4 separate regions of the Homo sapiens genome follow, and all the other regions are linked to region 2. Evidence: fine-mapped expression QTL. A gene starts in region 2. Each other region holds a variant in brackets. All regions are shown on one strand. Distances are between the middles of the regions.

Region 1 (8,000 bases), 19 kb before region 2:
CATGACATCGAGCCTCCTTGAACATCTCGACCTCAGCCCCAAGCAAATTCCACAAAGATTAACGACAGAGATGTTTAAAAAAATGCAGCAGTGCTGGAAGCAACTCTCAGCAGATGTTTTTCTAAAAGAAGGCCATTTTAAGCATAGCATAAAATCCAGAAATCATAAAAGACTGGTGAGTGTTAAAAATTGATATGGCTAAAGAAACCACAGACAGAATTAGGCCAGGCGCGGTGGCTCACGCCTGTAATCCCAGCACTTTGGGAGGCCGAGGTGGGCAGATCACGAGGTCAGGAGATCGAGACTGTCCTGGCTAACACGGTGAAACCCCGTCTCTACTAAAAATACAAAAAATTAGCTGGGCATGGTGGCGGGCGCCTGTAGTCCCAGCTACTCGGGAGCCTGAGGCAGGAGAATGGCTTGAACCCGGGAGGCGGAGGTTGCAGTGAGCCGAGATCGCGCCACTGCATTCCAGCCTGGGCAACAGAGCGAGACTCCATCTCAAAAAAAAAAAAAAAAAAAAAAAAAAAGAAACAGACAGAATTAAACAAAAATAGATGCGTGGTGTGAGACCCATCCATGGTGTGCCCAGTGGGGACTCAGCAGGAACTTTCCAGGAGCTGAAAAGTTCTGTTCCGTGAGCTGGTGCTGCCCACAGGCAACTTCGAAGTTTACGCCGAATACAAGTGTCCCTCGGTATCAGCGGGAGATGGGTTCTGGACTCCCCATGGATACCAGAATCCACAGATGCTCAAGTCCCTGATGTAAAAAGGTGTAGTAGCCAGGCATGGCAGCAGCTCACACCTGTAATCCCAGTACTTTGGGAGGCCAAGGCAGGAGGATCCCTTGATTCCATTTCCATGTGAGCACAGGAGTTTAAGACCAGCCTGGCCAACAATGCTTGTGAATAGGCAGTTCACAAAAGAAAAGGTGCAAATAGTCAACAACTCTAGGAGATGTGCTCAGCTTAATTAATAATCAAAGAATTCAGGCCAGGCGCGGTGGCTCACACCTGTAACCCCAGCACTGAGGCTGAGGCAGGTGGCTTACTTGAGGTCAGGAGTTCAAGACCAGCCTGGCCAACATGGGGAAACCCTATCTCTACTAAAAATACAAAAATTAGCCAGGTGTGGTGGCGCACACATGTAATCCCAGCTACTCGGCGGACAGAGGCAGGAGAATTGCTTGAACCCAGGAGGCAGAGGTTGCAATGAGCTGAGATCATGCCACTGCACTCCAGCCTGGGTGACAGAGCGAGACAGAGCGAGACTTCGTCTCAAAAAAAAAAAAAGGAAGAAAAGAAAACATTGGTGTAAAGCTTCATGACTTGGATTAGACAATGGCTTCTTAAATATGGCACCAAAAGCACAAGCAACCAAGGAAAAAGATAGATAAACTGGAGTCATAATAATTAAAATTAAAATGTACGTGCTTCAAAGGACACCACCGGCCAGGTGAGGTGGCTCACGCTGTAATCCCAGCACTGTGGAGGCTGAGGCCAGGAGTTTGAGACCAGCCTGGCCAATATGGCGAAGCCCCATCTCTACTAAAAATACAAAAATTAGCCAGGTGTGGTGGCAGACGCCTGTAGTCCCAGCTACTCGGGAGCCTGAGGTACAAGAGTCACTTGAACCTGCTCCAGCCTGGGTGACAGAGCAAAACTCCATCTCAAAAAAAAAAAAAAAAAAGACACCAGCAAGCAAATAAAAAGGCAGACCACAGAAACAGAAAATGTTTGCAAATCATATTTCTGATAAAGGACTGGCATCTAGAATATATAAAGAACACTTACAACTCAAAAATACCAAAAGGTAAATTCTAAAATGGACAAAGGATTGAAATACACATTTCTCAAAAGATATAAAAAATGGCCAACAATCACACCAAAGTGTTCAACGTCATTAGCCATCAGGAAATGCAAATCAAACCACAATGAGATTCCACTCGACACCCACTAGGATTGGATGTCTGCAATCAAAGAGTCAGATAATAACAAGTGTTGGTGAGGATGTGAGGAAATTGGAAACCTCGCACCCGGCTGTTACTGGGCATGCAGAATGGCACGCCCGCTTTAGGAAGCAATCTGGCAGTTCTTCAAAATGGTTAAATATAGAATTACCACACAGCTGAGCAATTCCACTCCTAGGTATCTACCCAGCAGAAATAAAAAACATACGACCACACAAAAACGTGTATGCAAACGTCCATAGCAGCCTCACTCATAACAGCCAAAAGGTGGAAACAACCCACTATCCGTCAACTGATAAACGCATAAGCAAAAGTGGGCACTTCCACACCACGGAACCGACTCCAGCGGGGGGAGGGTGAGGTGCTGATGGCGCGGCGATGTGAGCAGCCCTGACAGCGTCCCGGCAAGTCGAAGAGGCCAGACCCAGGGCCAGTACAGGCCAATCCATAACCATTCCTGTCTGCCTGAGCCCCTCAGCCCCCCCATTCTCCCTGTCCCCCATCCAGGGCAGATTCCTCTGGGGCTGAGGCTACTGCAGCCTGTGGCAGGAGAGCTCTGGGCACCCTATGGGAGAGGCCTCCGTGCTGAGGGCTGTGGGCTGGTGACTTAGACAGTCGGCCCAGCTGCCAAGAGGTGTCCAGTCGCCCAGCCCCCCAAGCCTGGCCTGTGACAGCTCATAGAGGCTGGGCCGTCCTGCCACACCATGGGAGCCTGGAGAGAGACCTGGGGTGGGTGTGGCAGGGCGGGGACAGTTCTAGGAGAGAGTTGTGGCAATGCAGGTGAGTGGAGGTGAGGCGGTCAGTGAAGAAAGAAAGAGCGGCCCAGCAGCAGTCCAGCGTTGTGGGCAGGGGCCTGTCCTGGGGGTCAGGGCATGAGTGCAGGCCGGGGAGTGGGGAGTGGGGCCAGCCGGGGGCCTGGGCAGCTGGGGATAGAGACTTTAGGTTGTCATGTTAGGGATGGGAGTGGGGCTTAGGGGTGCTGTGAGGTGGTCCTGGAGAGGGCAGCAGGGGTGAGAATGAGGCCGGGGTGAGTACCGTTGGTGAGTGGGTGGCGTTGGTGTGGGGCAGG[G/A]GCCAGGGGTGGGAGGCCTGCATTGGTCTGGGGGAAAAGCGGGCCTGGAGAGGGGCTGGGTGTGTTGGGTCTCCACAGGGCGTGTGCCCAGCCTGTGGCCTGCACTCTCTTCAGGACCCCTTGCCAGCCCTGGGCCTGCCCAGTGCCACTGTGCCTGGCCCCCTCCTCATGTGTCCCCTACTCTCCCCTGTCCTGGACTCTGAGCTTGGTTATCTGTGTCCCTGGCACTGGCCCCAGGCCCTCAGCCAGCACTGCAGGGTGTTTGCACGGGTGAGTGGGTGATGGCGTAGGGCGTCATCTGCAGTGGTTGGTGCTCAGCTGGCAGAGGGCAGGCTGGAGGTTATTTGGGGCTCACTGGAGAGGAATTTTGGTCGGTGTTTACTGTCAAAAGTAAAACGCTCCAAAAAAAAAAAAAATCAAGCAGGGTGGAAGTATACAAAGAAAAACGGGGAGAGTCACACCTCTGGGTTCAGGCTCCCGGCTGGGGCGATCGCTGTGCATGAGAGAGGGCGGGAGAGAGCACACGGATTTGGCCGCCCCTTTACAGGGAGCTCAGACTGAGATTTCCTCTGGAGCCACTGGCTTTTCATGTCAGTACCAATTAGGTTGACCTCATGCTGATTATTAGTATTTTTTAATAGCTTTATTGAGAGGTAATTCACATGCCACACCATTCACCCATTCAAAGCGTCCAATTCAGTGGTTTCAGTAGATTCGGAGTTGTGTAGCTGTCAATTCCAGGATATTTTCTCACCCAGCCCCTGGCAACACCGCTCTCTTTTCAGTTATGGACTGGCCGCCTCACCTCCACTCACCTGCATTGCCACAACTCTCTCCTAGAACTGTCCCCGCCCTGCCACACCCACCCCAGGTCTCTCTCCAGGCTCCCATGGTGCGGCAGAACGGCCCAGCCTCTATGAGCTGTCACAGGCCAGGCTTGGGGCGCTGGGCGACTGGACACCTCTTGGCAGCTGGGCCGACTGTCTAAGTCACCAGCCCACAGCCCTCAGCACGGAGGCCTCTCCCACAGGGTGCCCAGAGCTCTCCCGCCACAGGCTGCAGTAGCCTCAGCCCCAGAGGAATCTGCCCTGGATGGGGGACAGGGAGAATGGGGGGGCTGAGGGGCTCAGGCAGACAGGAAGTTGGCGATGTTCCAAGCGGAGCAGTGGCCGCCTGACTGTACAGGGAAGACCGGGGATTTCCAGGGGAGAGCCAGGGAATGACGTGTCCAGGGGAGGGTCTGAGACGTTGTGGGGTGGGGGGTGAAGGTCACCGGAGTGAGGGTCAGACAGGGAGTTGTCTGTGAGAGGGCACAGTGAGGTGGAACCGAGGCAATGCCACAGAGGGGAGGAGGCCAGGAGGCCTAAGCCAGAGCACCTCCTCAGTGCAGGGATCAGCTGGGCAGGGGGCACAGGCCTGGCCTCCCTGCCCTCCTCAGAACCACCAAATGCTGAGCTGGGCCCAGGACAGGGGCCCGCAGCTGCTTACCATGGAGGGATTTGGGGCTGCCTTGCCGTCACTGGCTGGCTGGCAAGGGGTGCCATGCCCTCCCACAGTCCCTCCACCCCAGGGACAGGAAGGGCCGGGGCTCCAGCCCTCTAGCAGGTCCAAGGGGCTCACAGAGGTCAGGCCTGGAAAGGTGTAGGGCACAGGGGCCACCTCTGACCTCCTGCAGGCCCTCCTCAGCCTTGGTCCGTGGCTCCCAGACACAGGTACCAGCCCAGCCCCTCCCGTCCCCTTGTCTCAAGCCAGGAGCTAAGGAGACTTGGGGTACCTGGTGTGCTCACGGAGCCTCAGCACCTGCCTTGCTGTTTAGCCACTCTCAGGCCAGTGCCACACACATGCGGGCAGCTGCACCATCACGTGACAACTCCACTTCAGGCAAGCCCCCCGGCCCCCCTGCCCCCTCACCAGCCTCCACCACCAAGCCCAGAAGGCAGACAATGGGCCAAGACTGCGAGTGTGCCCAACACCAATCCTGGCCTCCAGAGGAGCTGCGCTTGGGAGGGAGGACCCTGACAGAGGGTCCCAGCAACCTCCAGGGATCTGTCTGGCTCACCCCTGGATGAATCAGAAGTAGTTCCCACCCCAGGAGGTAGAGGAAAGACAGCCCTGGGGCCAGGAAAGCCTCAGCACAATGCCCAGAACAGGCTGGGGCACCCCAGGCAGCCCAGCAACCTGACCAGATGAAGAACTCCAGGAGGAAACGATCCTGCACAGTTCCCGCACTTTGAACAGAGTGGTCAGCTCAGAAACAGCTCTGTCCTGGGGCTTGCCAGGAGGGCTGGAGCCCAGGTGGGCGGCTGCTTCCCTGCCCTATACCCCAGCACCCCTCCGGGTGCTCCCTCTAAGGCAGGGCCGGCCATGTAGAGCATGAGCAACAGGCTGCCCGCTCCAGGCCTCCCCAAGGGTGCAGGAGTGTCTCCCCTGGCCCGAATGAACTAGTCACACAGGCAAAGCGGCTGGGCACAGCACTGTCAAAGAGAGCCACAGCAGTACATCCACCCTGCCCCAGAGCCGTCGCTGGAGGACGCCTGAAGGAGATGAGTTCGGGGCACCATGAAACCTACCCAGCTGGGCAAGGTTGTGGTGGAGAGCGGCACCACGGGGCCCCAGCAGGACCTCTCTCCCTGAGCTGCCCTTGGGGGCAGAGCCAGCAAAACCAGCCACGTGGAGCTGGAGTCTGCTCTGATCGGCTCTGCCTGGGGGCCCCCACCGCGACCCTCCCCAGCAGCTCAGTCCCTTGCTCCTAAGCCTCTGCAGGCCGGCAGCCAATGCTGTGTCCACAACCGCCTGGAGCCGGGCGACCCAGGCTGAGCCAGGCAGCTGGGCTGCAAGAATGGCCGGTGGGACCAGGACCTGGGAGGGTCCAGGGGCTCCCCGTGGGCGTGGACTAGGGCAAGGGGGTCTGCCGAGGCATCAAGCAGGTGGGCAGGCCACTCTGATGCTCCCCTAGAGAGGAAGGAGGGGCCACCCTGACCCCTAGCCCACAGCTGTCCCCTAGTGAACAGAGAAGGGGTGTGGGGGGGGTGCCCTGCCAAGGAAGGGTGGCAGCCCAGGCCCTCGCCAGTTTAGGGAGGTGAGGAGAGGCGGCAACTATGTGACCCATTGCCAGGCGGCGGAGCTGCCCCTGTTCCATGCAGACGCGCCCCAGAGGTGGGGCAGGGGATGGCTCAGCCTTGACCCATGTGTCTGCTGGCCACAGACACCGGATCCTGGCTCAGACAGCCGACCCCGACAAGCCCTGAGCGCCCCCACCCGCCCGCGGCCCACCCCACCCACCCGAGCCGCGCGATGCCCTATTAAGGGCATGGCCTCGGGGGCTCAGCGGAGCGAGTCCTCCCCTTCCCTAGGCACTGGCAGCCGTTGGGGGCGATCCAGGCGGACGAGGCCGGCGGAGTGGCCGCGCTCGGGCCGGCGATCGGGACCGCCACCGTGGACGACAAGGTGCTCGGCGGCTGGGCTGTCAGGAGCGGCCCGACAGGCAGCGGGACGGGGGGCCGTACCTTTGTACTTCTCGCGCACCTCCTCGTAGGCCTGGATGAAGTCCTGCTCGTCGGGCAGCGGGCCGGCCATGCCGGCGGGCGCGGGGCGCGGGGTGCAGCGGAGCCTCCAGCACCCGGCGGCCACTCTGTCCCCGCGGCCGCGCGCGCCGCTTAAAGAGGCCGCCCCCGCCCCGCCCCCGCCCCGCCCCCGCACCCAGGATGCCCCACGGGCGGGGCGGGGCCGGGGCCGCCGCGGCCGGGCAGAGGGAGCCGCGTCTGGGCCCCTCCCGGCGGGCCGGTTCCGCGGGCTCCGAGTCCCGCACGCACGCCCTTTCCCGTTCTCGCCCGGGTCGCGGCCGCCGACACCGCGGTCGCCCGGGGGTCCTCGGGTGGCCCCCGCCCAGGGGCGGCCGCGACCTGTCTGTTCCCCGCCGGGCCGGCGACCTGCCTCCGAGACGCTCCCCTGCCCGCCCCCCACCTTGCTTCCTGCGTGCAGCTGAGAACTTTCCCATTGCAACATTGGAGACGACTGAGTCGGTATAAAGAACCCTTAAAACACTACACACAAGAAAAATTAAGTACACATACGAGGACTGGAATAGCCCATTCACAGAAGGAAAAAATGCTTGGTGATAATTAAAACAACTCTTTCCACCCATCAGATTGGCAAAGCCCCCGCTCTCCCCGCCTTCACCAATGTCGGCCACCCTGTCTGGGATGCCCCTGGCCGTGTTTTCTCCAAGCTTAATGCCATATGTCCTGTAACTGCAAGTCCCGCTTCCAGGAATCGGTCCTAAGGAAACCGTCAGAGGACGCAGAGCCCCGGCGCGGAAGGTGCTGGCTGGGGGCAAAGCCTTTGCAGTGAGTACCGAAGGCAACCACGGTCAGCCGGGGCCTCGGGACCCCCCACACTCCTCCACAACTGTAAAGGTGATGCTGAAGAAAGCCCAGGCGTGGGAACGACACAAGTGATTCCCTTTCAAGTGGGAAGAAAGTGACTTCTTTCTTTAAAGTCCGTGTGTGCTGTGAAAAGCCCTGAAGGTCATGCAGATGGAACCAGACCCTGGGGCTGGAGCTGGGTGCACAGCAGTGACCCTCTCCTTCCCTCTTTCCTGCTCCTACCAGCCCCGCTTCCCGTCGTCTGCAACATCCCCCCAGGGCTCAGCACCTGGCCTTGCAGCCCTCTCCTGGCCTCCCGCAGGGGCCTCCCTGCCCTCCGGCTGGAACAGGTCAGGACTCTCAAGCCAAAGCCTAGAGAGCTACTGCTCCTCCCTCTCCTAGCACAGCTCTAGGTCACCCACTTCCCTCCTGCCCTCCCCCTTCCCCAAGCATCTCGCTGGATGCTTCCCATCGTTCTCCCTGGATGGGGAGCTACTGGAAAGCAAGGCCAGATCCTGGCTCAGGAAGAGGCTGGGGCTCCAGACAACCAGGTACCCCCTCCCTATACACTGCTCCTGTACATTCCCACCTGGCCGCCA
Region 2 (8,000 bases):
TGAGGACGCCCCCACAGCCCAGTCTCTGCCAGCTCAACACAGGTCCCCCTCCAGAGCGTCGGCGGTTTTCAAAGTAGAGAGTGAGCAGCTCGTCGGGCACGGCAGGGGGCAGTCCACGGACCTCCACTGCCACCCCTGCCTCTGCCTCCGCCATTGCAACCCTGGGACGGGGCATCAGGTGGGTAGGGAAACAGCCCATTCCACCCCTCCTGCCCCTCCCCAGGCCCCTCCAAGGTGTGTCCTCAATGCTCCCCCATTATGGGTGGCCCCACATACAGCACTTACATTCCCCGTGGCCGCTAGGCAGCCTCAGGCCATGAGCTCAGCCAGGACTCCTGTGCCTGCCCCTCAGCAAGCCTAACCCTGCTGGGAGCAGGAAAACAAAAGTGAAACTGAAAGACGGAAGGAGGGAGGGAGCAGCTGGGCCCTGGGCGCTGAGGCCTGGGTACTGGGGCTCAGATGCTTCCTCTCCTGCTGCAGCCTCAACCCCCAGCTGACCAGGAGGTATTGGCCAGGCTGGACCCCTCAGGACCCTCCAGCCAACCCAGCCCAGCCCACCGGCCCTACCTGGCCCACTCCAGCCCCTGGTTGGCAGGGTAGACAGGAGTGTCCCCTGGTGGCCCTCCACTCCCCTGGCCTCCATGGCCTGAAAATGGCCAATCACCCGCCCCACTAAACCCACCAAGGGGCCTGAGTCACTGCCCCTCACTCAGGATCTCCAAGCCTCTGTGTCCATGACACCCTCTGCACACAAAGTGCTGGGTCTCCAGGCCCGCCCCCGGCCAAGGCTGGCCTTCAACGCCCCCAGCAACCTTCTCAACCCTGCTCCTGGTCCCTCACACCTGCCAGGTGCTGAGCATGGGCGGTTCCCCACCCTTGGTCTCCAAGAATGTGCATTGCAGCACAGCCTTCCTCCCGCCTCAGGTCTTGCCTGCCCATTCCTGCAGCTTTCTGTCCTGCCTGCACCTCCCCATCTCACACCATCATTGGCATCGTCACAAGTAACCTCAGAAGGTGACAAGGTAATGGCTCCACTGCATTCCTTGCTGCCGCTAATCCTCACCACAGAAAGGGAAACGGAGGTGCAGACAGGCCCATAGCAGCACCAGGCCTCAAACCTGGGCGGTGCCTTCAGAGTCCACACTCCCACTCGCCACAGATCTCCCACATCACCCAAGCTCCGTTTGCTTCCAGCCTTTCAAAGAGCTGTGGCCACTACCACTCTCCATCTCCTACTTCCCACTCACCCCTCAGCCCACCAAAACCCAGCCCCACCCCTGCTGTTCCTCCCTCCAGGGAGCTGAGGACCCTGGCCAGCCTGCACTCCTAGCCCTGCACATGCCACACCTCTGCTGCCCCGACCCTGGTCCCAGCCTCCAGCATCTCTCGCTAGGTAGCTAGGCTAACCTCTTAACTAGTCTCTGTCTGCCACTCCCATGGTGGGTCCTCAACAGAGGTGTCAGGGTGAGCCTTGTAAAATGACACCAGCAGCTGCTACAGCTCCCAGCATCAGCAACAGTAGAAACCAAAGTCCTGGGGGCCGGGCGCAGTGGCTCATGCCTGTAATCCCAGCACTTTGGGAGACTGAGGCAGGTGGATCACGAGGTCAGGAGTTTGAGATCAGCCTGGCCAACATGGTAAAACCCTGTCTCTACTAAAAATATAAAAATTAGCCGGGCATGGTGGCAGGTGCCTATAATCTCAGCTACTCAGGAGGCTGAGTCAGGAGAATAGCTTGAACCTGGGAGGTGGAGGTTGCAGTGAGCTGAGATCGTGCCACTGCACTCCAACCAAGGTGATAGAGTGAGACTCTGTCTAAAAAAAAAACAAAAACCCAAAGTCCTTTTGAGGACCTGCCCCCTGCCCAGCTGCACCTGACCAGACCTCAGTCCCTTCTCTGGCCCCATGCCCCCTGCACACCCTGATGCTCAGAGGGCTCCAGGCTCTCAGCTCTTCCTGCAGAGCTACAGGCCACTCCTGCCTCAGTAGCCTGGGACTGGCCCTTCCCTCTGCTTGGCCCTACCTTCCCCACAAACCCCCATGGCCACCCCTCTGGCATGATCTCCCTTACTCTGCCTTTTTTTTTTTTTTTTCTGAGACGGAGTTTCGCCCTTTCACCCAGGCTGGAGTGAAGTGCCGTGATCTCGGCTCACTGCAACGTCCACCCACTGGGTTCAAGGGATTCTCCTGCCTAAGCCTCCCAAGTAGCTGGGATTACAGGCACGCACCACCATGCCCAGCTAATTTTTGTATTTTTAGCAGAGACAGGGTTTCACCCTATTGGGCAGACTGGTCTCAAACTCCTGACCTCAGATGATCCACCTGCCTCAGCCTCCCAAAGTGCTGGGATTACTGGTGCCAGCCACCATACCCAGCTATTTTATTTTTATTTACTTATTTATTTATTTTTTGAGACAGAGTCACACTCTGTTACGCAGGCTGGAGTGCGGTGGCACGATCTCAGCTCACTGTAACCTCTGCCTCCCAGGTTCAAGCCATTCTCCTGCCTCAGCCCCCCCAATAGCTGGGATTACAGGTGCACACCACCACGCCCAGCTAATTTTTTTTTGTATTTTTAGTAGAGACGGGGTTTCACCGTGTTAGCCAGGATGGTCTCCATCTCCTGACCTTGTGATCCACCCGCCTCGGCCTCCCAAAGTGCTGGGATTACAGGCGTAAGCCACCGCGCCCAGCAAGCATTTTATTTTTCTTAAAGGTCTCTCAAATTTTGTGAGCTTCTGCTTCTACAAAGGTAGAAGTTACCTTCTACAAGGGTAAATCCATCCCTGCTTTTTCCACGTTTTCTCTAATGGAACTCATCACAGGTTATCCATTACGCCGACCCTGGCTGCAGAGGGCCTGCCACAGGCACCACTCACACCACAAGCAGACTGGTACAGTTTCGGGAATTTCTGTGGACTGGTTGTCCAGCTGGGGGTAACTTGAAACCAGCCCCGGTGGAGTATTCACACCACGCGCATGTGCAAAACACGCACCCCAGGCTTCCCCTCACTAGGTCCGGCTGCTAAACACTGCGCCAGCGCACCATAGGTGCAGGACTCAGAGCGGCCTGGGAGAGGCCGGCCCTCCAAGGGCGGGAGGGCAGGTGGGGTCTGGGCCCCGGGTGGGAAGGCTGGCAGCAGGATGTACCCTGCCTGTGTCAGTCACTGCTCCCCCAAGAGGACTTGGGAGCTAAGCAGGGAGGTGGCCTGGCCTCCAGTCCTGCTGCATCCCCAAGCCTCAGCCCCTCGCAGCTTGTGAGGACGTTAGGCAGACAAGCGAGCGTTCAGGGTCTCTAGTGTGAAAACAAGACATCGTATTTGTTAGTACAAAGGGTGACTGTGGTCAAGAATAATTGTACATTTTAAAACAACTCCAAGAGTATAACTGGATTGTTTGTAACACGAAGGACAAAATGCCTGAGCTGATGGATACCCCATTTACCTTGATGTGATTATTATCCATGGCATGCCTGTATCAAAACATCCCATGTAGCCCGTAAATATACACCTACTATGTATCCACAAGAATTAAAAAAATAAAAAAGGGTCTCTAGTAGCAGGCCTGGCAGAGTTTGGGCTGACAGAGCAAATGGGGCAATTAAACCACGAGGCCTCGATTTGGGAACTAAAGGATTAGGCTTCTTGATTTGGGAGAGATCTGGATGAAAAGAAGTGAACGTCGGGTTTTAAGGCCGAGAACGGACGGTCAGTCCCGGGCAGCTTCAGCAAATCCCGCATTTAGGAATAAATTTCTTAACTACCGAACGGCCAGTCAAATTGGCCAGACCAGACTTCTGCCTCCAGGGGTCTTCAGCGCCCACCGCCCGACCCCACCCCTCGGCAGACAGTGAGAGGCGGGCCTCTGGCCGGAGCGAAGAGGAACACGCAAGGCGGCGCAGCGGGAGGGGTCCGCGGAAGCCCCGCCCACCTGCCCCTCCCACCCCGAAGCTCGCCCGGCCCCGCCCCCTGCCCCGCCCCGTCACAAGGCCCCGCTGCGTCTTCCGAGCCGCAGGCGCAGGCCCAGCTGAGCGGCCGCCGAGCGGGTGCGGGTGCGGGCGCATCGGCCATCACCGCGCGGCCGCGCAGCGGACACCGTGCGTACCGGCCTGCGGCGCCCGGCCACCGGTGAGTCCCCGGCCCGAGCCCAGGAGCGCCTCTGACCCGCTGCGCCGCGCGGCCTGCCGCCCCCGCCCCCGCCCCCACGCGGATCTTGCGCATCCGAGCGTGGCCGCCTCGGGTCAGTAAGTTGGTCCGGCCGGGGCGCGCGGCAGCTCGCGGCCAGAGGTGGCGGCGGTGGTGGGGGCGGGGAGCCGCGGCGGCCTGGAGCCGGAGGGAGGGGGCGGCGCGCTGCGGCGACTGCTGGACCCGTGACCCTGTGCGCCCCCGGCCCGCGGAGGGCCCATCCGCTCTCGGTGCCAGTGCCACGGCCGCAGCCCCTACCCGCCTCGCCCCACGCCCGCTTTGTTCCCCGCACGCCCCGTGGTCGCTTCCATCCCCCACACACCCCCGCACCCCGCTGTTCCCGGCGTACCCCACTGGCAGGCACCGGCAGCCGATCCAGGCCCGATCCCCCCACCCCGGAGCCAGGGGCCGTTGGGCCCTGTTGTTGGGCTCGCGGGGGTGGGGGGGCTCGGGCCTTTGTTGGTCACAGATGGCCCGGGGATTTCCTGGGATAGAAATAGCCGCCGGCTCCGGCCCCTTAAAGCTGCTTAAGGGGCGGGATGCGGAGGGGAGGGTCCGGGCACACCCCACACGTCCCCGGCCGAGACCCCAGCCTCCGCGCTGAGCTCCCACCCGGGAGACGCCGGCAGCGGCGCAGGCCTCCGGTTGCTTGTGAGAAACGACCCAAGCCCCAAATCCCGAGGCTGGCGGTCGTCCCCTCGCCCGGCCCCTCCCCCACCCTAAAGGCGGCCTAGAGCCCTGGGAAGGCCCCACGGCGCCGCCCGTCCGGTCCTCACGCGCTTCTCCGGGCCCAGGCTCCGGGGCTCCCCACAGCCCGGGGCAAAGGTCACGGTCTTCCCTTGCTTCCCCCTGGGTTCCCAGAAGCAGGTGGAGTTGCGCAGGGCTGGGTCCCGACGCTGTCGTCAAGCCAACTGTTCCACTGTTCCTTGTCTGTCTTCTCTAGGGGCGGACCGCGGAACCCGAGGCCATGTCCCATGAAAAGAGTTTTTTGGTGTCTGGGGACAACTATCCTCCCCCCAACCCTGGATATCCGGGGGGGCCCCAGCCACCCATGCCCCCCTATGCTCAGCCTCCCTACCCTGGGGCCCCTTACCCACAGCCCCCTTTCCAGCCCTCCCCCTACGGTCAGCCAGGGTACCCCCATGGCCCCAGCCCCTACCCCCAAGGGGGCTACCCACAGGGTCCCTACCCCCAAGGGGGCTACCCACAGGGCCCCTACCCACAAGAGGGCTACCCACAGGGCCCCTACCCCCAAGGGGGCTACCCCCAGGGGCCATATCCCCAGAGCCCCTTCCCCCCCAACCCCTATGGACAGCCACAGGTCTTCCCAGGACAAGACCCTGACTGTGAGTCTCAGGAAGGGAGGGGTGGGGTGGCCGGGAGGGCAGGGGGAGGTGCTTGTGAGTGGCGCTGACCCAGCCTGTCTGCTTCTCAGCACCCCAGCATGGAAACTACCAGGAGGAGGGTCCCCCATCCTACTATGACAACCAGGACTTCCCTGCCACCAACTGGGATGACAAGAGCATCCGACAGGCCTTCATCCGCAAGGTGGGTAGGGGCATCTCCAAGGCGGTGGGGGCTGTGGCTCCCAGCGGATGACTCTGAGCGGCTCCTTCCCCAGGTGTTCCTAGTGCTGACCTTGCAGCTGTCGGTGACCCTGTCCACGGTGTCTGTGTTCACTTTTGTTGCGGAGGTGAAGGGCTTTGTCCGGGAGAATGTCTGGACCTACTATGTCTCCTATGCTGTCTTCTTCATCTCTCTCATCGTCCTCAGCTGTTGTGGGGACTTCCGGCGAAAGCACCCCTGGAACCTTGTTGCACTGGTAACCCCCAAACCTGAGCCTCTGTGCCTGGGTCCGGCCATGCAGTCCCACACGCCCACTCTTCCGGGCCTGGTCACCGTGGTTCTCCTTGTGCTCATGAGGCAGGGGCCGGCAGGGGTGGCATGGGGGCACACACCCAAGGTCAGCCTGTGTCTCCCAACTGCAGTCGGTCCTGACCGCCAGCCTGTCGTACATGGTGGGGATGATCGCCAGCTTCTACAACACCGAGGCAGTCATCATGGCCGTGGGCATCACCACAGCCGTCTGCTTCACCGTCGTCATCTTCTCCATGCAGGTGAGGGGCCTCCCGTGGCTGGGCTGTGGCCGCAGGGGCTGAGCAGCTTTCCCAGGCCCAGCCCCATGGCCCGTTCCTCTCCCACCTGCAGACCCGCTACGACTTCACCTCATGCATGGGCGTGCTCCTGGTGAGCATGGTGGTGCTCTTCATCTTCGCCATTCTCTGCATCTTCATCCGGAACCGCATCCTGGAGATCGTGTACGCCTCACTGGGCGCTCTGCTCTTCACCTGCGTGAGTGAGGGGTGACCTTGGCCGGGGGCGGGATGCTGGGCAGGCAGGCTTGTCCCTCAACACCACTGTGCTGTCACCTCCAGTTCCTCGCAGTGGACACCCAGCTGCTACTGGGGAACAAGCAGCTGTCCCTGAGCCCAGAAGAGTATGTGTTTGCTGCGCTGAACCTGTACACAGACATCATCAACATCTTCCTGTACATCCTCACCATCATTGGCCGCGCCAAGGAGTAGCCGAGCTCCAGCTCGCTGTGCCCGCTCAGGTGGCACGGCTGGCCTGGACCCTGCCCCTGGCACGGCAGTGCCAGCTGTACTTCCCCTCTCTCTTGTCCCCAGGCACAGCCTAGGGAAAAGGATGCCTCTCTCCAACCCTCCTGTATGTACACTGCAGATACTTCCATTTGGACCCGCTGTGGCCACAGCATGGCCCCTTTAGTCCTCCCGCCCCCGCCAAGGGGCACCAAGGCCACGTTTCCGTGCCACCTCCTGTCTACTCATTGTTGCATGAGCCCTGTCTGCCAGCCCACCCCAGGGACTGGGGGCAGCACCAGGTCCCGGGGAGAGGGATTGAGCCAAGAGGTGAGGGTGCACGTCTTCCCTCCTGTCCCAGCTCCCCAGCCTGGCGTAGAGCACCCCTCCCCTCCCCCCCACCCCCCTGGAGTGCTGCCCTCTGGGGACATGCGGAGTGGGGGTCTTATCCCTGTGCTGAGCCCTGAGGGCAGAGAGGATGGCATGTTTCAGGGGAGGGGGAAGCCTTCCTCTCAATTTGTTGTCAGTGAAATTCCAATAAATGGGATTTGCTCTCTGCCTTCCCCTGGTCACTCTTCTCCCTGCCACTTTCAACATGAAGTTGGGAGGGGCTCCAGGCCCTCCCTGCTGATGGAGACACAGGACCAGAAATGAATAGTGGAGATTAATACAGTGCCAAGCCTCTGCCCACACACAGCTACATCATAAGGTGTGTGTTGGGTTCCCAACTGATGGACAGAGACCCTGGGGTGCCCAGAGTGAGTTAAGCCTGTGCTGGGGTACCCCAATGGTAAGTGGCCTGGCTGTGTCTACCAGGTGCTCCGTGGAGATGGCACGGTATAGCCGCCTCACTCTTCTGTCGCCTGGGCCAGCGGCACAGGTCATTGGCCTGCCCCAGGGCAGCCTGCCATGCTCCTTGGGCGCTCCTTGGGCCTCCCCAGCTCTGTGCAGTCCATCTGTGTGGGCACCCTGATATTCCACCCAGGCCTGCCTCTCTCCAGCCTCCCCATGAGAAACACAGGCTGGAGATCCCGTCCAAGAGCTGGACAGAGACTGAGGGCTCAGCCATTTGGGCCCCTTGGCCTGCCCAGGCCCGGTCCTTTGGAGCCCTCAGCCCCAGCCTGCAGTGCGTTTCCTGCCCTGTGACGCCTGCTGCTCCTGCAGGGGGTCCCTCCATTGCCTGGGACCTGGCTGGTCTGAGCCCTGCTGAGCTCTC
Region 3 (8,000 bases), 59 kb before region 2:
CCGACTGGACCTTGGGCTTCTTGGCCGGGGAGGCCACCGGCTCAAGCTGCGCCTTGTACGTCACCAGCTGGAGTTCATAGTCCTGTGGCAATGCACTGCGGTCAGCCACCAGCTCTGCCCTCCGATGGCCCCTGCCCAGCCCCTAAACCCTCACATGGGCTTTCCCTGGCATGGCCCAGGCTCAGGGAAAGCCCGCCATCATCCTGGCAACGGTCCCGGACTTGGGGCCTGGTGCAGGCGGCTGGGCCTCACCTTGATGGCGTTGATGTACTGTTTCGCAAACCTCTGGCACTCCTCGACCTTCTCGCCGTGGCGCTCGATCTCCTCCAGCAGGGCCTGGGTGATGGTGTGGTCAGAGCCGTGGCCGCAGGGCACGCCCAGCCGCCCCGTCCCCACCGACCCAAGCCCACCTGCTCCTGCCGCAGCTGCTCCCGCACAGCCTGGCTGTCGGCCAGCGGCATGGCCTGGATCTGCTCCTGCCGCCGCCTGGCGTCCTGCAGCCAGGCGCCCAAGGGGTCTGCACTCTCGCGGTAGTAACGCAGCTGGCGGCCCAGTTGCTCGAGCTCGCGCTGCCGCACGTCGGTCTGGGCCAGCACAGCCTGCCAGCGCTCAAGCAACTGGGCGACCCGCTCCCGCCAGCGCTCCACCTCCACGTCCCGCTCCCCGTGCCGCTGCTGCAGTCGCTCCCCCACCTCCTGTGCCCCCCGCAGCTCATCCCGCAGGGCGTCGAACGTGGGCTGCTGTGCCTCGGCCTGGGCCCGCAGCTTCTGTTGGGGACAGGAGGGACATGTGCGGCTTCAGCTGGGCCCGCTGTACCCCCACCCCGCCATGAAGCCCAAGCCTCGAAACGATACCTTCAGAGAGGCCTTGGTGGCCTCGAGCTCCGGGAGGGTGGCCGGCACGGCCTGGGCCTCCTTGAGCTGCTCCTCGTGGGCCCTGAGCACCTCCTCGGCCCCCTGCGTGCCGCGGATCACCAGGCTGATGGTCTTGAGCCTGGCGGGAAAGCGGGGCTCAGGGCCATGACATGGGGCTCGAGCAATAGCCCAAGGGAATGGAACCCAAGCCACAGCGACCCAGGGTGCTGCCTGCCAAGCCCAGACCCAACCCTGGGGGTCAGCTGACCCTGTGGTCAGAGGCTTGCTTCAGGAGAAGAACAGCCTTGGGGAGAAGGAGGTTGGGAGCCTCTGTAACACAAGGACACTCAGGACCCAGCCTGGAGAGGGGGTGCGCCAGCCAGGAACGGCAGACCCCAAGGCCCCGAGACAGGACGAGCCCACTGGCTGGATGACAGCGGCATCCTGGTGCCCACAGGGCCTGGAAGCGTAGTTCTCAGCCCTTGCAGCCCAAGACTGGGCGAAGGGGACACCGGGGTGGAAATGGCACCCTGTGGTAGCCAGCGGCGGCCCTATCACTGTGCTGGTTCTGTGAGGAGTAGACAGCGGGTGGACCTGTGGTTTGCAACACAGGAAGAGGCGGCGGCCCTATCACTGTGCTGGTTCTGTGAGGAGTAGACAGCGGGTGGACCTGTGGTTTGCAACACAGGAAGAGGTGGCGGCCCTATCACTGTGCTGGTTCTGTGAGGAGTAGACAGCGGGTGGACCTGTGGTTTGCAACACAGGAAGAGGCGGCGGCCCTATCACTGTGCTGGTTCTGTGAGGAGTAGACAGCGGGTGGACCTGTGGTTTGCAACACAGGAAGAGACTATGACATAACACATTGGAAATAAATGCCAGAGGCCCTTAAGTCCAGGCCAGGAACAGGACAGACGAGAGGCAGGGTGCAGGATTCCTTACTGTGCCACTGAAAGTGGATCCACAGCTTCCCCACCTCACTCAGCAGCCGCTGCCCAGCTCCACTGTCTCTTCCCCACACCCGAATCTCATCACCAGGAAGTCCCCCGGCCGCCACTGTCGAAGCGTATCCAGCCCTGAACTCTTCTCACCACCTCTGCGGCCACCACCCCAGCTGGGCCTCCCGCCTCCTGGCCAGATCTCTGAACAGCCCCCAACTCGTTCCCTCCTGCACCCTCCTGCAAGGTCACAGCCCTCACCCCAGCACCCCCCAGCCGACCCCAGCCCCTCGCCTGTGGCCAGGTGCACTCACTTCTCCAGGTAGATGGCAGACAGGCTGCGGACCTGCTCCAGCTTGCCCAGCGTCAGCTCCAGCTCCGAGCGCAGCGTGGGGGCCGCAGGCGATGGCTCTGGTAGGGCCAAGACCTTCTCGGCCTCGGCAGAGAGCCGGGCGACCCCCTTGCCCAGCCCCTCCACCTCTGCCTGTGCCTTCTGCAAAGACAGGGAGTGGGAACGCACTCATCACCGAGCGCAGCACACAGCGCCCCTTGAAGGCCAAAGGAGGGAGGGTGGGAGGAGGGATGGGGAGAGGGATGGGACTGGATGGGGGGGGACGGCCCCTGCCTGCTGCTCGGCGATGCGCTGGGCACACTCCCGTGCCGGCTCTTTGTCCAGCGGCAGCCGCAGGCGGTGCACGGTGCGCGTCTCACAGGCCTCCAGCTGCAGCCGGATGTCTTTGAGCTCGGAGATGCAGCGCTGGCAGCGAGACTCTTCCTGTGCACCTGGGGAACACATGTGGGTCACTCCACCGCCCACCTCGCACCAGCCCAACCGCCCCAGCCCTGCCGTGCCCTACCCTGTTCCAGGCTCTGCAGCAGCTGCTGGTAGTGGTGGCTGCAGGAGCCGTACTCGCGCTCAGCCATCAGCCGGTCCTCGGGTCCGAAGCCGCCCGCGTCCTGGCTGTCCCGCAGGAAGGCCTGGTAGTGCAGCTCCAGGCTGTGCAGGGCTTGGCGCTGCTCCTCTGGCTTCAGGGTGCGGAACTGGGGGAAGCACGTGGGGCTGAGTGCCGGGCGAGGCGGCCGTGCCCTGCACAACGCCTCTCCCCTCCTCCCACCCAGAGAGCCCCCGGCTCGGGGGCAGGCGTACCGTGGCCAGGGACCAGGAGCGGATGAGCTGCACGTCGCGGCGAAGGCTCTGCCAGGCCAGAAGGCTCTTCATGTCCACGTGCAACTGGTGCCACAGCGTGACCAGGGCCTGGTGCTGGGCCTCCAGCCTGGCAGGTCAGGGCTACAGTCAGCGTCACCAGCGCCCCACCCGCCTTCCAGCCCCCACCTGCTGAGCCCCCGCCACCCACCTGGTGACGGCCTCCTGGGCCTCCTGGTTGGGCGGGGGCACCAGGAAGCACACGGAGGGCACGG[C/T]GGCCTCGCTGCCGGAGCTGCTGAGCACCTTCCAGTGGGACGGCTGTGCAGGGCCCACCAGCTGGCACTCGTCACCCTTGTGCACAGTCACCTGGGACGGGCAGAGTCGGTGAGGACATGGCCACACCCTGCCCTGCCTGGCCACGCCCCCCAGTGGACCCCCGGCCTGCGCTCACCTCCACCTGCTTATAGTCGCACACGGCCAGCAGGGGCAGGCGGCCCCGCATGGGGTGGGCTGGGTGGCGGGGCTTCAGCTGCACGACGGCCTTGGCCCGCTTGGCCAGGCCTGAGAGGTGGCCCTTGTACTCGTTCAGCTGTTCCTTCTCGTCCTGTGGGGGAGGGGCAGCATCCAGACGAGGGCCATGGAGACCCACAGGCCTGCCCCAGGCACCCCCAGACCCCGGGACCAGGCCTGTGGGGCCCTCCTGATGCTCCCGGGGTGGCAGCACTTGGAAGCAGGAGGTATAGCTGGGACAGGCCCCGGGGGTTGGCCCCAAGCAGACCCATGCACCCTCGCTCCTTCCCAACCCAGACAGGGCACCCTCCTCTCACCCCAGCTCACCCACCATGTCCTCCCAGCTACGCTCTGGTCCCTACAATGCCCTCGCCCCTTGCCCCTCCCCTGCGGGCTGCAGAAGGTACTGCCTCCTCCCATCCCACCCCTCTGCGGGGGCCAGGCCGCAGGACGGCACACACCTGGGAGCTGCCGGCTCTCCCCCCGGCCCAGCCCTGCCGACCTCAGAGGCCATTTCAGTCTCCAGTCCCTCTTCCCTGTCACTCCCCACTGTGCACCCGCCCTCCTGGGTGATCCCACCCCTGCTCCCAGAGCACAAAGCCCAGTTCCACTCTGCCCGCTCCAGATCTCAGGCCAAACAGCTGGTGCCCCTTCTATAGTACAAGGGCTGGCAGTGCTCCTTCTATAGCACAAGGGCTGGCGGTGCCCCTTCTACAGCACAAGGGCTGGCGGCAGCTGCTGACTTCAGGCTTCCACTCACTCTGTGGCTATGGAGATGGGGGCGGCCCGGCTTGGACCGGCTGCCTCTCGGCTCCCCACATCCTGCCTCATTCCCCCCTTGGCTGACCTCTACACCTCCCATGGTGCCTCCCAACTCCTGCTGGCCCCTCCAGTTGCCCCCTAGTCTCCAGAGTACCCATGCAGCCCAGAACATCCTGCCTCATTCCCGCTTCGGCTGACCTCTACACCTCCCATGGTGCCTCCCAACTCCTGCTGGCCCCTCCAGTTGCCCCCTAGTCTCCAGAGTACCCGTGCAGCCCAGACTCCAGGCCAGCCCCTCCTGACACGCCCCTGCACACCCCCTCCCTCACCTGGGCATCCTGCAGCAGGTCCTCCAGCCGGGTGACGGTGGCGGAGCGATCACAACTGTATTTCCTACGCAGTGCCTCCTGCAGCTTCTGCAACTGCCCCTCGGCCTCCCGCACATCTGAGAAGAACTGGGGCAGCGGGAGGGGGTCACGCCAGGCTACCTGGGACCAGAGCCCCAGCCCACAGTTGTCCCAGGGCAGGCCCAAGACGGGGGCACTGAGGAAGGAGTGGCAAAGCCCCCAGGAGGCCTGGGGAGCACCCCTGTCCAAGGCCCCGGTCAGGCTGCAGGCAGCAGCTGGCAACGTCTGCAGACAGGAGGGCTCCTGATTGGAGCTGCCGAGGGGGTCCAGGGGCTCCTGCAAGGCTGCCGCTGAGCCACAGTGCGGAGGGGGCTCCGGTTCTCACCTGAAAGTAGGCAGCGTTCTCCTTCAGGTGTGCCTCGATACAGCAGCACAGCTGTAGCATCCAGCTCCACTGCGTCTGCAGGGCCGCCTGGAAGGACTGCGGGACAGCAGGTCCCGGTCAGGCCCCGCCCCGCCCCGCCTGGGGACCCGGCACGGCCCCCCCCGCAGCCCCGCCCCTACCCAGGGAGCCCCACCTCCACCGTGGGCCGGGCCGGGTGGTCCTCCCGCAGCAGCCGGTCCCCAGCATTTTGGAGCTCCTTGATCTTCTTCTCCTTCAGCTCCAGCTCCCGCATCAGCGCCTGGCACCAGAGCAAAGGGTCTCAGGGACGGCCGGCCACACCCGGCTCTGCCACGCTCCCAGCAAACTCGACCCAGGGCCCCCACTGGTCTCTGACCATAGGGGACGGCCAGGGCACAGCTGGGGAGGGGGCTGTGGGGTTCAGGGCAGCTGGGCCACCGCTCACCGAGTAGCTCTCCTTCTTGGCGGTCATGTTGGTGTTGCGGTCGCTCCAGTCGAAGCCCACCTCCTCCTCCTCCTTCTCATTCAGCCACATTAGCTCCTTAGTGGCGGCTGCCACAAAGCTGTGCAAGCTCTCCAGGGACCTGAGGCGGGCCTTGGAGGAGTTCTGTGGGCAGGAGGGTGCGTGTCAGCAGGCCGCGGGCTACCCACCTCCCCCGGCTGGCCCTGCCCCCACTCACCAGCAGCTTGGCGTACTGCAGGTCCAGCCGACCCAGGCAGTCACGGTAGGCACCCCGGGTGGCGGGGGAGAGCTGGCCCTGCAACAGATGAGACGGTGAGGTCTGCAGTGGCTGGGCCCGGCCCACCCCCGCACTGCCCATCGCTCAGCGCCACCCACCTCGTCACTCCGTGCCCGCTCGATCTTGGCCCGGAATTCTTCGATGGACTGGTGCAGGCCTCGGTGGCTGCCCAGCTGCGCCTCCACGCTGGGCAGGTCCACACCCCACTCAGCGCCATCCACACGGTGCTGGTTCTCCTCCACCCAGGCCAGCAGGTCCTGCAGGTAGCGCAGAGTGGAGTCCTCCAGCTCGGGGCGCCTCTGCACACTCTGCAGAGTCACCTGGGCCACCTGGGTTGCAGGGGCCGCCACGCCTGCCTTCAGCCGTAGGTTGTACTCGGTGCGGATGGCTACCAGGCGCTCGTGCAGACGGTACACCCTGGGGCAGCAGAGGACTCAGGTAGGTGTTGGCGGGCCTGGGGCCGTGTGTACCTGGGCTTCAGGGAGGGCAGGGCGGGGCCCACCTGCGGTACATCTGCTCGCCCTGCGGGTGCCGTCCATCCTTGAGGGTCTGCACGTCGTTGAAGAGCAGCCGGATCATGCTATCCGCCTTGTCCAAGTCCCGTTCCACCTCCCCCGCCCGCTGTGGCACTTTGCCTGCAGCCAGCAGCCGGACATCCTGCAAGGTCGTTGCCATGACTCGGAGCACAGCTGATCCCCCTCTGACCTCACAGGGGCCCCGGCCAAGACGGCCACCCTCAGCCGCTTCCTCAGCCTCAGTGGGCCACTGCCTCCATCCCTGTCCTTCCCCTTCCCTCCCTGCCCACCTCACACATCTTCCTACTGGCCTTCTGGGGGATTGGGACCAAGTCCAGAGTACTTAGCCCAGTCCAAGAACCGAGACCCCCATGACCATGTCTGTGGGGTCCTGGGCCTCATCCTCCATCACCCACCCTGGGTAACTCCTCCTGTAATGCCACGTGGGCCCTGTCCTCCTGGGCAATCAGCAGTGGGTTGGGCCCTCCCCCAACCCCTCCCCTAACAGTAAGCCGCTGTCGGGGAGGGGGCCTGGCGGGGGCAAGGCAGCCCAGCGTGGGTTCTGCCCCGTGGCCAGAAACCAACTCTGCCCAAAGCAGGCAGTGAGAGTTAGCTGCACACGAGGAGGGAGGAGCTCAGGCCTGGATTCCCCACCACATGCCCCGCCCCTGCCCCTGCCCCTGCCCCAGGAGCCCAGGGGGACAGCCCCCTCCTGGCTTTAGGGCTGCAGGGCGGGGCAGGCTCCTCCGGCCTCCCTCCCGCCCACTGCCTGCCCCACACCCCCTCACCGACTGCAGCAGGGCGTCGGCCTGGTTCAGCTGCTCCTCACACAGCCCCGCCTCCATCTGCAGCTTGGTCACGATGCGCTGAAGACACTCCAGCCTGCAGCAGCAGCACAGGGAAGGGGCCGCGTTGGCCGGGTCCGGCACAGCCCTGGCCACAGACTGCAGCTCGCCTCCCGCTCCGGTCTCCCTGGCTGTGGCCCACTGTCCTAAGGCGAGTGGGAGCTTGGGTTCCCCCGCCGGGGGCGGGGCGGGGAGGGGGGTTTCCTTCCCAGGCAGTGACACACCCTCGGGTGGTTCCCCTGCCACCACAGGGCCCCACCCACCTCTCAAACTCGCTGCGGAGCTGCTTCTCCCGCTCCAGGATGGCCACGTGCAGCTTGCCCCACTCCTTCTCCACATCCAGCGGGTGGTAGCCAGGGGGCACCTTGAGCTGGCCTGCTTGCACCGCTCCCTGTAGACAGGGGCCACACTCAGGCCCTATAGGCAGGGGGCAGGGGGTGGGGCGCTGGGCCTTCAGACCCCAGCCCACCAGACCTGGGACAGCCCTGGTCCCAAAGGCAGGGCCAGGTCGGCTCCGGAAGAACCTTTCAGGCCTGGGGCGTTCCAGGACACCACCCACCCCTCCAGCGGTCCCACTCACCTCCAGGGATTGGTAGATGCCCTTGGACCTGTTCTTGTCGGCCTCCTTGGCTGGTAGCTCCATCTCCTTAAACTTCAGGAACTGAGACCACAGGATCTGCCAGGGACGAGGCTGTCGGCAACCACGCCGGGCTCTCAGGGCAGGCCCAGGACCCCGCCCCCCACGGCAGGCCCACCTCAATCTCCTCGAAGCTGGAGGGGAACCTGCGTTCCTCAAAGGCGGCCGTGTGGTGTCGCATCCACTGAAGCAGCAGCAGCACCAGCTCCCGGTACTCCTGCCAGCGCAGCTGCAGCTCCTGCGGGCAGGCACGGGCGGCTGTCAGGGGTCGTCGGGGCGTCCAGGCCCAAGCCCCCTGCCCTCCGGGC
Region 4 (8,000 bases), 76 kb after region 2:
CCCAGGAGGCGGAGCTTGCAGTGAGATGAGATCGCACCACTGCACTCCAGCCTGGCGACAGAGTGAGACTCCGTCTCAAAAAAAAAAAAAAAAAAATGGGCAACCAGCAGCCCTCGGGGTGCTCTGTCTATGGGGTAACCATTCTTTATTCCTCTACTTTCTTAATAAACGTGCTTTCACTTTAGGCACTCGCCCTGAATTCTTTCTTTCAAGAAATCCAAGAACCCTCTCTTGGGGTCTGGATTGGGACCCCTTTCCTGTAACATTTGTGCCAAGGGCAGTGGACTCCAGCTCCCCATAGACAGGGATGGGGCCCAGGATCAGGCACTTAGGAACCCCTCCCCATGGATGGGCTGCTGCTCATGTCCAGATGACTGCCCTGTAAGTGGCACGTGCCTGCTGTGATGCCACCCCCAGACCCCATGCCCATGGACCTCCTAGTGCCTTCCCATCCTGAGGCCCAGCTGAGGCCCCAGATGATCATGCCACGCCCACATGCAGGAGCCCCACCTGCCTGCTCTGAGCAGTCCGTGGGAAGCAGCTCTGGTCAGCAACCCCACTTCAGCCGAGGACCTTCCCCACCAGCCATACAGCCTCTGCCTGGCCAGCCCACACTCCTGCGGGACTGCCCTGCCTTCTGGTTTCCACCCATCCCCAGCACAGCCTCTTGGTCCTGCCTGTCAGCCCAGGATCTATCAGGAGAGATTCCCACACCCCACCCACCCACACCCCCACCATCTGCTGCCCTGTACGCACTCAGGCTGCCCGCCAGGCCTGTGCTGTAGACCCCAAACTCTCTCACTGCCCTCCACCATCCCCAGCCACCCCCTCGCCTCTCTGTTCACTCCAGGGGCCTGTGCTATCCACTCACAGACGAAACCTCTAAGGGCCTGTCCCCACGCTCCCTAGCGGCATCCCACTGCCGTGCACCTCCAGGTGTCCACCTCCCCCACCTCCGCCTGCCTCCTGGGCTCTCCTGACCCCACTCCACTGCGCGTCTCGGGGGCAGACCAACAAAAGCCAACCCCCACCCACCCAGGCTCAGGCCTCCCTTGGCTGCCCCACCTGCCTCCTACCCCACTGGGCCTTTATCTCTGTCCCTCCATGTTGCTGGGTCCCAGCTTCCCCTTGGCAATGCCACGCAGCCCCTCCACAGCAACCAGAGGCAGCTCCAGGCCTGCGGGATGGCCCGGCCCCTACTCTCTAGTGGCGCCTCTGACTGCATGGCCAGACACGTCCCAAAACCAAGCCCCAGGCCACCTACCAGTGGCCCACTCCAGCAGCGGCTCCCCCACCCAGCGAGCTGCCCCAGCCCCATTCTCATCCCCACACGCAATCTGCCAGAAGTCCTGTTACTTTCACCTTCAGAACACAGAGCTGCTACTTCTCACACCTCCACCCCGGCCAGGCTTCCATCACGTTCCCCCAGGGATATGGCTGTCCCCACCACCAGAGAGCGCAGGGCTGGGAGGACAGAGTCTGCCGTTGCAGTGACTCTGACAGCTTCAGGCACAGACAACTTGCACCCACCTCAGGGCCTGGCACAGGCTGTTCCCTGGGCCTGGAAAGCCGCGCCCCAGCCTGGCAGCTCCCTCGCCCGCTCAGGCTCTGCTCAGAGGTCACTTTCCCAGACCTGGCACCTTCTCCCCGCCGCACATCCTGGAAGAGCCCCAGGGCCCTGGCTTTGCTCCAGAGGCACCGCAGCACCCAGCGGGTTTGCCCAACTCCACAGAGTCTTGGGGCCCCGGTACGGCTCACCTCTCTCAGCATTCTTGAATTTGATCGTTCTCCGCCTGGGTAGCCAGGGACTGGCAGCCACCTCAGCCAGGAACCCGGAGCTGCAGAAGCCCAGGCTGCTGCCGCGGTTCCTGAGCACCAGCTTCAGCTCCTGGTTCTCCTGGATGAGCTGCACCAGCCGCCGCAGCTCTTCGTTCTCCTGTGCCAGCCGCTGGATCTCCTGCCGCAGGCCCTCATAGCTGCTGAGGAGGGACATGCCTGGCAGCCAGCGGCGGCAGCTGGCGGGGGCCAGCAGGCCGGCCAGGGACAGCAGACCCTGCTATTGTGAGGTCAGCAGCTGCCCCTGCCCCCTCGCCTCAGCCGCATTCCGGGCCTTCAGGGTCAGGACCCAGCTGTTCCAACCACCCCGTGGCAGAGGTGGCCTGACCTCTGACCTCCAGCCCCCTGAGGGCCAAATGGCCAGTGGGTGCCCAGAACTGTCCCAGGTCTCTGGCTCACTCCAGGAATCCTCCTCCTAGAAGATGGAAGCTTCTTTGACCCGGCCAAGCCCAGGTGTGTCGTGGGGGAAGGGATATGGGATGCAGGCTTCCGCACCCACCCGTCTGACAGCCCACTGGCCACCAGCCACAGCCTCCAGGCCTGGCCATGCCAGGACATAGTTTTAGGCAACCAGGTGTGGTATGTCGGCAGTCACGGTTGGCACAGCTTCTGAAGGGATCAGGAAGGGTGGGTGCGTGGCTGCCCTGCAGGATGGGGCCCAGCAACAGCAGGAGCTGGACAGCAGCAACCAGGGCAGGCCAGGGCTACAGGGGCAGAGCCAGCCGAGAGCACGCTAGGACAGCATGGGAGGGGGCTGCAGGCCAAGGGATGCACCAGGCAGTGCTAGAGCCACCACAAGGGAGGCTGGGCCTGTTTCTGGGGGCACAGGGCCTTGGCATTGTCACATGGAGGTTGCAGCGAGCAGGCAGGTGCCCTGGAAGAGGCACCACATCTGGGCCATAACCTCAAGGAAGGGGATGGGCCAGGCGGCCCACCAGAGGCTGAGGACCAGGACCTAAAGACACACCTCCCCAGGGACAGGAGAGCCACCCTCACCCTCAGTGGTGACAGTGGTTTGCATTTTAGATCACATAAAGGACTTTCTTCTTCTATCCAATCTGTCTTTTTTTTTTTTTTTTTTTGAGATGGAGTCTTGCTCTGTCGCCCAGGCTGGAGTGCAGTGGCGCCATCTGGGCTCACTGCAAGCTCCGCCTCCCAGGTTCACGCCATTCTCCTGCGTCAGCCTGCCAAGTAGCTGGGACTACAAGTGCCCGCAACCACGCCTGGCTAATTTTTTTGTATTTTTTTTAGTAGAGTCGGGGTTTCACTGTGTTAGCCAGGATGGTCTCAATTTCCTGACCTCGTGATCTGCCCACCTCAGCCTCCCAAAGTGCTGGGATTACAGGCGTGAGCCACCGCGCCCAGCCTCCAATCTGTCTTTAAAGGGACACTTCTGCACAGTTACTTTGGTTTTCTGGCTTTTTCTTACATTATGATTATTATGTATTTTACATCATTTTTCTCTTTTGCTTGTTTGATGGTCTAGTTTCCACTTGCTGATTTGTAGACTGTCCTGGGATTCTCAAACTCCTTTCCCTGGCTACTCGAGTGGAGCCATCGCAGGGCCCCTCACCTGTGCGAGTGGGGGCAGTGCCCCTGAGACTAGTGCTCCAGGAGACTGGGGGCAACTGTACTGAATCCCAACAGAAATTGTGACAATTTAATTCTCGGCCGGGTGCAGGGGCTCACACCTGTAATCCCAGCACTTTGGGAGGTTGAGGCGGGCAGATCACCTGAGGTCAGGAGTTCGAGACCAACCTGGCCAACATGGTGAAACCCCATCTCTACTAAAAAAAAAAATACAAAAATTAGCTGGCCGCGATGGCAGGCACCTGTAATCTCAGCTACTCAGGAGGCTGAGGCTGGAGAATCACTTGAACCTGGGAGGCAGAGGTTGCAGTGAGCTGAGATCGTGCCACTGCACTCCAGCCTGGGCAACAGAATAAGACTCTGTCTCAACTACAATAAAATAATTCCTATAATTAGGAAGAAAATGGAGTAGAGTATTTTTATTTTTTTATTTTATTTTATTTACTTTTTTTTTTTTTTGAGATGGGGTCTCACTCTGTCACCCAGGCTGGAGTGCAGTGGTGCAATCATAGCTCATCGAAGCCTTGACCTCCCAGGCTCAAGGGATCCTCCTACCTCAGCCTCCCAAGTAGCTGGGACCACAGATGCATGCACCACCATGCCTGGCTAGTTTTTTTGTTTTTTTTTTTTGGTAGAAACAGGGTCTCGCTATGTTTTGTTTTGTTTTTTGAGATGGAATCTTGCTGTCACCCAGGCTGGAGTGCAGTGGCGTGATCTCAGCTCACTGCAAGCTCTGCCTCCCGGATTCAGGCCATTCTCCTGCCTCAGCCTCCCGAGTAGCTGGGACTACAGGTGCCCGCCACCACACCTGGCTGATTTTTTTTTGTATTTTTAGTAGAGACAGGGTTTCACCGTGTTAGCCAGGATGGTCTCTATCTCCTGACCTCGTGATCCCTCCGCCTTGGCCTCCCAAAATGCTGGGATTACAGGCGTGAGCCACTGCACCTGGCCCGGGGTCTCACTATGTTGCCCAGGCTGGCCTTAAACTCCTGGCCTCCTGCCTTGTTCTCCCAAAGTGCTGGGATTACAGGTGTGAGCCACCACACCTGGCCAAAGTAGAGTTTTTCTCTTTTTTTTTTTTTTTTTTTTTTTGAGACAGAGTCTCACTCTGTCACCCAGGCTGGAGTGCAATGGCACCATCTCGGCTCACTGCAACCTCCGACTCCTGGGTTCAAGCAATTCTCCTGCCTCAGCCTCCCAAGTAGCTGGGACTACAGGTGTGTGCCACCATGCCTGGCTAATTTTTTTGTATTTTTAGTAGAGACAGGGTTTCACCCTGTTGGCCAGGCTGTTTTCAAACTCCTGACCTCAGGTGATCCACCCACCTTGGCCTCCCAAAGTGCTGGGATTAGGGATTACAAGTATGAGCCACCAAGCCTGGCCTG[G/A]AGTAGAGTATTTCTGATAGTTGGAGAGATTTTACCCCAAAAGAATGAGGCTCGGCCAGGCGAGGTGGCTCATGCCTGTAATCCCAGCACTTTGGGAAGCCGAGGCGGGCGGATCACCTGAGGTCGGGAGTTTGAGGCCAGCCGGACCAACGTGAAGAAACCCCGTCTCTATTAAAAATACAAAATTAGCCAGGCGTGGTGGTGCATGCCTGTAATCCCAGCTACTCGGGAGGCTGAGGCAGAAGAATCGCTTGAACCTGGGAGGCAGAGGTTGTGGAGAGCCGAGATCACACCATTGCACACCAGCCTGGGCAACAAGAGTGAGACTCTGTCTCAAAAACAAAAAAACAAAAAAAAGAATGAGAGGCTCAGTCAGTCAACTTTCAACTCACACACTCCGAAAGCCAGAGGGTAAAGCGTGATAGGCAGAATTCTCAGAAGGCTTCCAGGATTTCCTGCTGTACATGCCGTGCATAATCCCCAGGACTGTGAATAAGATGGACTTTACTCCCATGATTAGGTTATGTTTTTTGACACTGCTGGGGGATAAAGGAGATGGTTTTGGGTGAGCCTAACCTAATCACGTGATCCTTCCAAAGGATGGGTCTCTTTCCAGTGGAAAGAACTCAAAGCATGAAAGAGATTCCACACAGGGGAGAGTCTCCACTGCTGGGGGAGTCTCAGAGCAAGGAATGTGGGCAGCTTCCAGGAGTTGACATATCATGGTAAAAATACTGGAAAGCAAAGACAAAGAGAAAGCTTTGAAAGTTAACAAGATAAAAAAATGATTCATCACATATAAGAGAACCCCAAATAAGATGAACACCTGACTCCTCAGAAGAAGCAGTGGAGACCAGAAGACTCAAAGTCAGAAAAACACTGTCAAGCAAGAATCCGATATTTAGGAAAACCACTTTTGAAAATGAAGGTGAAATAAAGACAGTTCAAGATGAACAAAGATAGAAAATGTGTTGGCCGGGCACAGTGGCACACGCCTGTCATCCTGGCACTTTGGGAGGCTGAGGCGGATGGATCACCTGAGGTCAGGAGTTCGAGACCAGCCTGACTAACATGGTGAAACCCCATCTCTACTAAATACATAAATTAGCCGGGCATGGTGGCAGATGCCTGTAATCCCAGCTACTTGGGAGGCTGAGGCCGGAGAATCGCTTGAACCCAAGAGGCGGAGGTTCAACCTGCCGAAACAACCTGCCAGCCTGCATTCCTTCCTGATAGAGACCACTGGCCACGGAGTGGCTCTACGGCTATGGAGGAAGCACAGGGAGGGGTTTTGTGTCCTCTGCTGCACCATTTGACGCTGGAAGCCTGAAAACCCCACCCTCAGATCACGATAATGCCACCATTTTTTGAACATGAGTCCCATGGGGAGGCATGAAGCTAAATTGTGCGTTTGTGTGCTCCCCTTTCATAAATATTCATGACTCCTCTTATAGCTCATTGAATATGTATATTTGGCCACTCCCTTCAGCATAAATTCCTGTTCCCCTTGCCCCTCCCATGAAGTGTCTGTTTTTGACTTCTGACTGGAGGCTACGCTTCCCTGCCTGTCAGAATGGCCGCCCTGCAGACTGCAACCCTTTATGAGAAATAAAGCTCTCCTTTCCAAATGTATAAACCTCGCCATTCTTCAGTTGACACCACCACCATGGCTGCCACTTTAGACGAACACGCTGCCCTGGCCCTTGGGAGGCAAGTCCAGTTCTCATGCTGTGGAATCTGACTGGCCTGTGCGGGAAGAGTGTGGGGAAGTGACGCTCTGTGTTCTCCGGGCCTCCACCTGAGACCCCACACAGGGCAGGACGCCCAGTGGGCTGTGTAGCCCTCTCACTTTGGAAATTGACCAAGGGGCATACAGCAAAGCAAGAAGCATTTATTCAAGAAGATCTACTAAGTCTTGATCAGAACAGGGGGAATCTGTGGTGCTTGAGCTCAGCCTGCTTCCCCCGGTCCCTGGCTCCATCATAAAAGCTCTACTCCAGGAGGTGCAGCTGAGGACACGGGTTCCTTCCTCCCAGCTCCTGGCTGCAAGGCAGAGGCACCACATAGGGAGGGACACGCCGAGAAGACGAGGCCTCCCGTCCCCCAACACCTGCCACAGCACAGGGGTCTCACTCCGGGAGAAGCAGGCCACCACGCCCACCCCCAGGTCCACAGATGCTGCCCCAGTGAGACGCGGTGGCAGGGCTGGCTGCTGCATGGGGCTGCCTTCCTTAGGAAGCACAGTGTGGGAAAGTCACGCCTAAGGTGCGTGGCAGGCTGTGGGAAGCTCAGTGGAGAGCAATTAGGAAAAAGCGGACAGCTGTGTGAAACTGATAGCAGCAAATGAAATGGCAGGCCAGCCTGGAGTGTAGCTGAAAACCAGGGACAGAGACAACAAAGAAAGGATCCTGCAGATACTGCATCCACCCCTGGGAGTCCAGAAGCCTCTGCACCGGTGCCAGGCTGCACCCAGGCTGAGTGGTTGGGTGTGCTGGCTGTCTATTGCTGCCCTCACAAATCACCACAGACTTGCAGGTTTAAAACAACAGAAACTTACTATCTTACAGTCCCGGAGACCAAAAGTCCAAGATGAGTCTTATGGGGCTAAAATCAAGGCTTTTACAGGGATGGTTCCTTCTGGAGGTTCCAGAGGAAAGCAGGTGCCCTGCCTCTTCCAGTTCCTGGTGTGTGCCGGGACTGCTTGGCTTGCAGCCACATCACTCTGATCTCTACCCAGGTGGTCCCACAGCCTTCTCTTCTCCTGTAGTCAAATCTCCCTCCATTTCCCTCCTAAAGGACGCTTGGAATGACATTCAGGGCCCACTGGGTCACCCGGGATCGCCTCCCCGCCTCAGCCTCCTTAACTGCATCTCATCTGCAAAGTCTTTTTTGCCAAATGAGGTACATTCATAGGCTTCAGTGATTCGGGCCTGAGTGTCTTTGGGGTTGTTATTTAGCCACCACGCTTGCTGAATGCGGAGCAGATTGGAAAGCTTTCCAACCACACACACATCCATCAGCAAAGGATGGAGCTGCTTTATCCCACCGAACCCCAGGCTGGAATCACCCCAAAAACAGCAGCATGGGGGTTCCCCCAAGGGAGTGCCCCAAACTGTCACAAGATTGAGCCTATTGGGTTTCCAAAGAAAGAAGCACTAAACGCCAGGGTGACTAGTCCAGAGCATTAAT

Which allele goes with the higher level. Positions count from the first base shown, and alleles are read on the strand shown. Sizes are in standard deviations (SD) of each study's normalised expression. Not every link is listed here.
As copies of A replace G in region 4, the expression in monocytes of the gene that starts at base 3,984 in region 2 goes down (large effect, 1.2 SD a copy in CEDAR).

Evidence for each region. PIP is the estimated chance that this variant, and not a neighbour inherited with it, causes the effect.
Region 1: its variant is fine-mapped to the expression of GRINA in whole blood (TOPMed, PIP 0.98).
Region 3: its variant is fine-mapped to the expression of GRINA in whole blood (TOPMed, PIP 0.99).
Region 4: its variant is fine-mapped to the expression of GRINA in monocytes (CEDAR, PIP 0.95).

What each region holds. Positions count from the first base shown.
Region 1 is chr8:143,966,860-143,974,859 of GRCh38, forward strand. It overlaps a transcript of PLEC not described here. Among named protein-coding and RNA genes, the nearest start is that of PARP10, 16 kb to the right of the region's middle. RefSeq lists enhancers at 1-268, 4,994-5,843, 5,844-6,691 and silencers at 6,425-6,884, 6,895-7,024. The variant G/A (reference allele first, on the strand shown) is at 3,038.
Region 2 is chr8:143,986,073-143,994,072 of GRCh38, forward strand. GRINA (glutamate ionotropic receptor NMDA type subunit associated protein 1) reads left to right here and starts at 3,984. Exons shown (of 7, transcript NM_001009184.2): 1 at 3,984-4,127; 2 at 5,128-5,530; 3 at 5,620-5,732; 4 at 5,806-6,006; 5 at 6,173-6,301; 6 at 6,393-6,536; 7 at 6,620-7,343. The coding sequence starts at 5,152. The coding sequence ends at 6,769. It overlaps PARP10 (poly(ADP-ribose) polymerase family member 10), which reads right to left and starts at 388. Exons shown (of 11, transcript NM_032789.5): 1 at 286-388; 2 at 1-161. The coding sequence starts at 287. RefSeq lists enhancers at 51-490, 161-1,064, 5,729-6,230 and silencers at 3,916-4,415, 4,436-4,575, 4,706-4,965, 4,889-5,183, 5,016-5,065.
Region 3 is chr8:143,927,000-143,934,999 of GRCh38, forward strand. PLEC (plectin) reads right to left here. Exons shown (of 32, transcript NM_201384.3): 9 at 7,811-7,930; 10 at 7,636-7,731; 11 at 7,319-7,446; 12 at 6,999-7,092; 13 at 6,198-6,352; 14 at 5,794-6,112; 15 at 5,636-5,713; 16 at 5,401-5,562; 17 at 5,131-5,235; 18 at 4,938-5,033; 19 at 4,535-4,660; 20 at 3,385-3,537; 21 at 3,145-3,299; 22 at 2,937-3,063; 7 more. Among named protein-coding and RNA genes, the nearest start is that of PLEC, 8.6 kb to the right of the region's middle. RefSeq lists enhancers at 1,221-1,350, 1,741-1,990, 5,215-6,150, 7,559-7,608 and silencers at 1,477-1,606, 6,759-7,038, 7,159-7,268. The variant C/T (reference allele first, on the strand shown) is at 3,209.
Region 4 is chr8:144,061,942-144,069,941 of GRCh38, forward strand. It overlaps a transcript of OPLAH not described here and a transcript of EXOSC4 not described here. Among named protein-coding and RNA genes, the nearest start is that of OPLAH, 5.2 kb to the left of the region's middle. The variant G/A (reference allele first, on the strand shown) is at 4,812.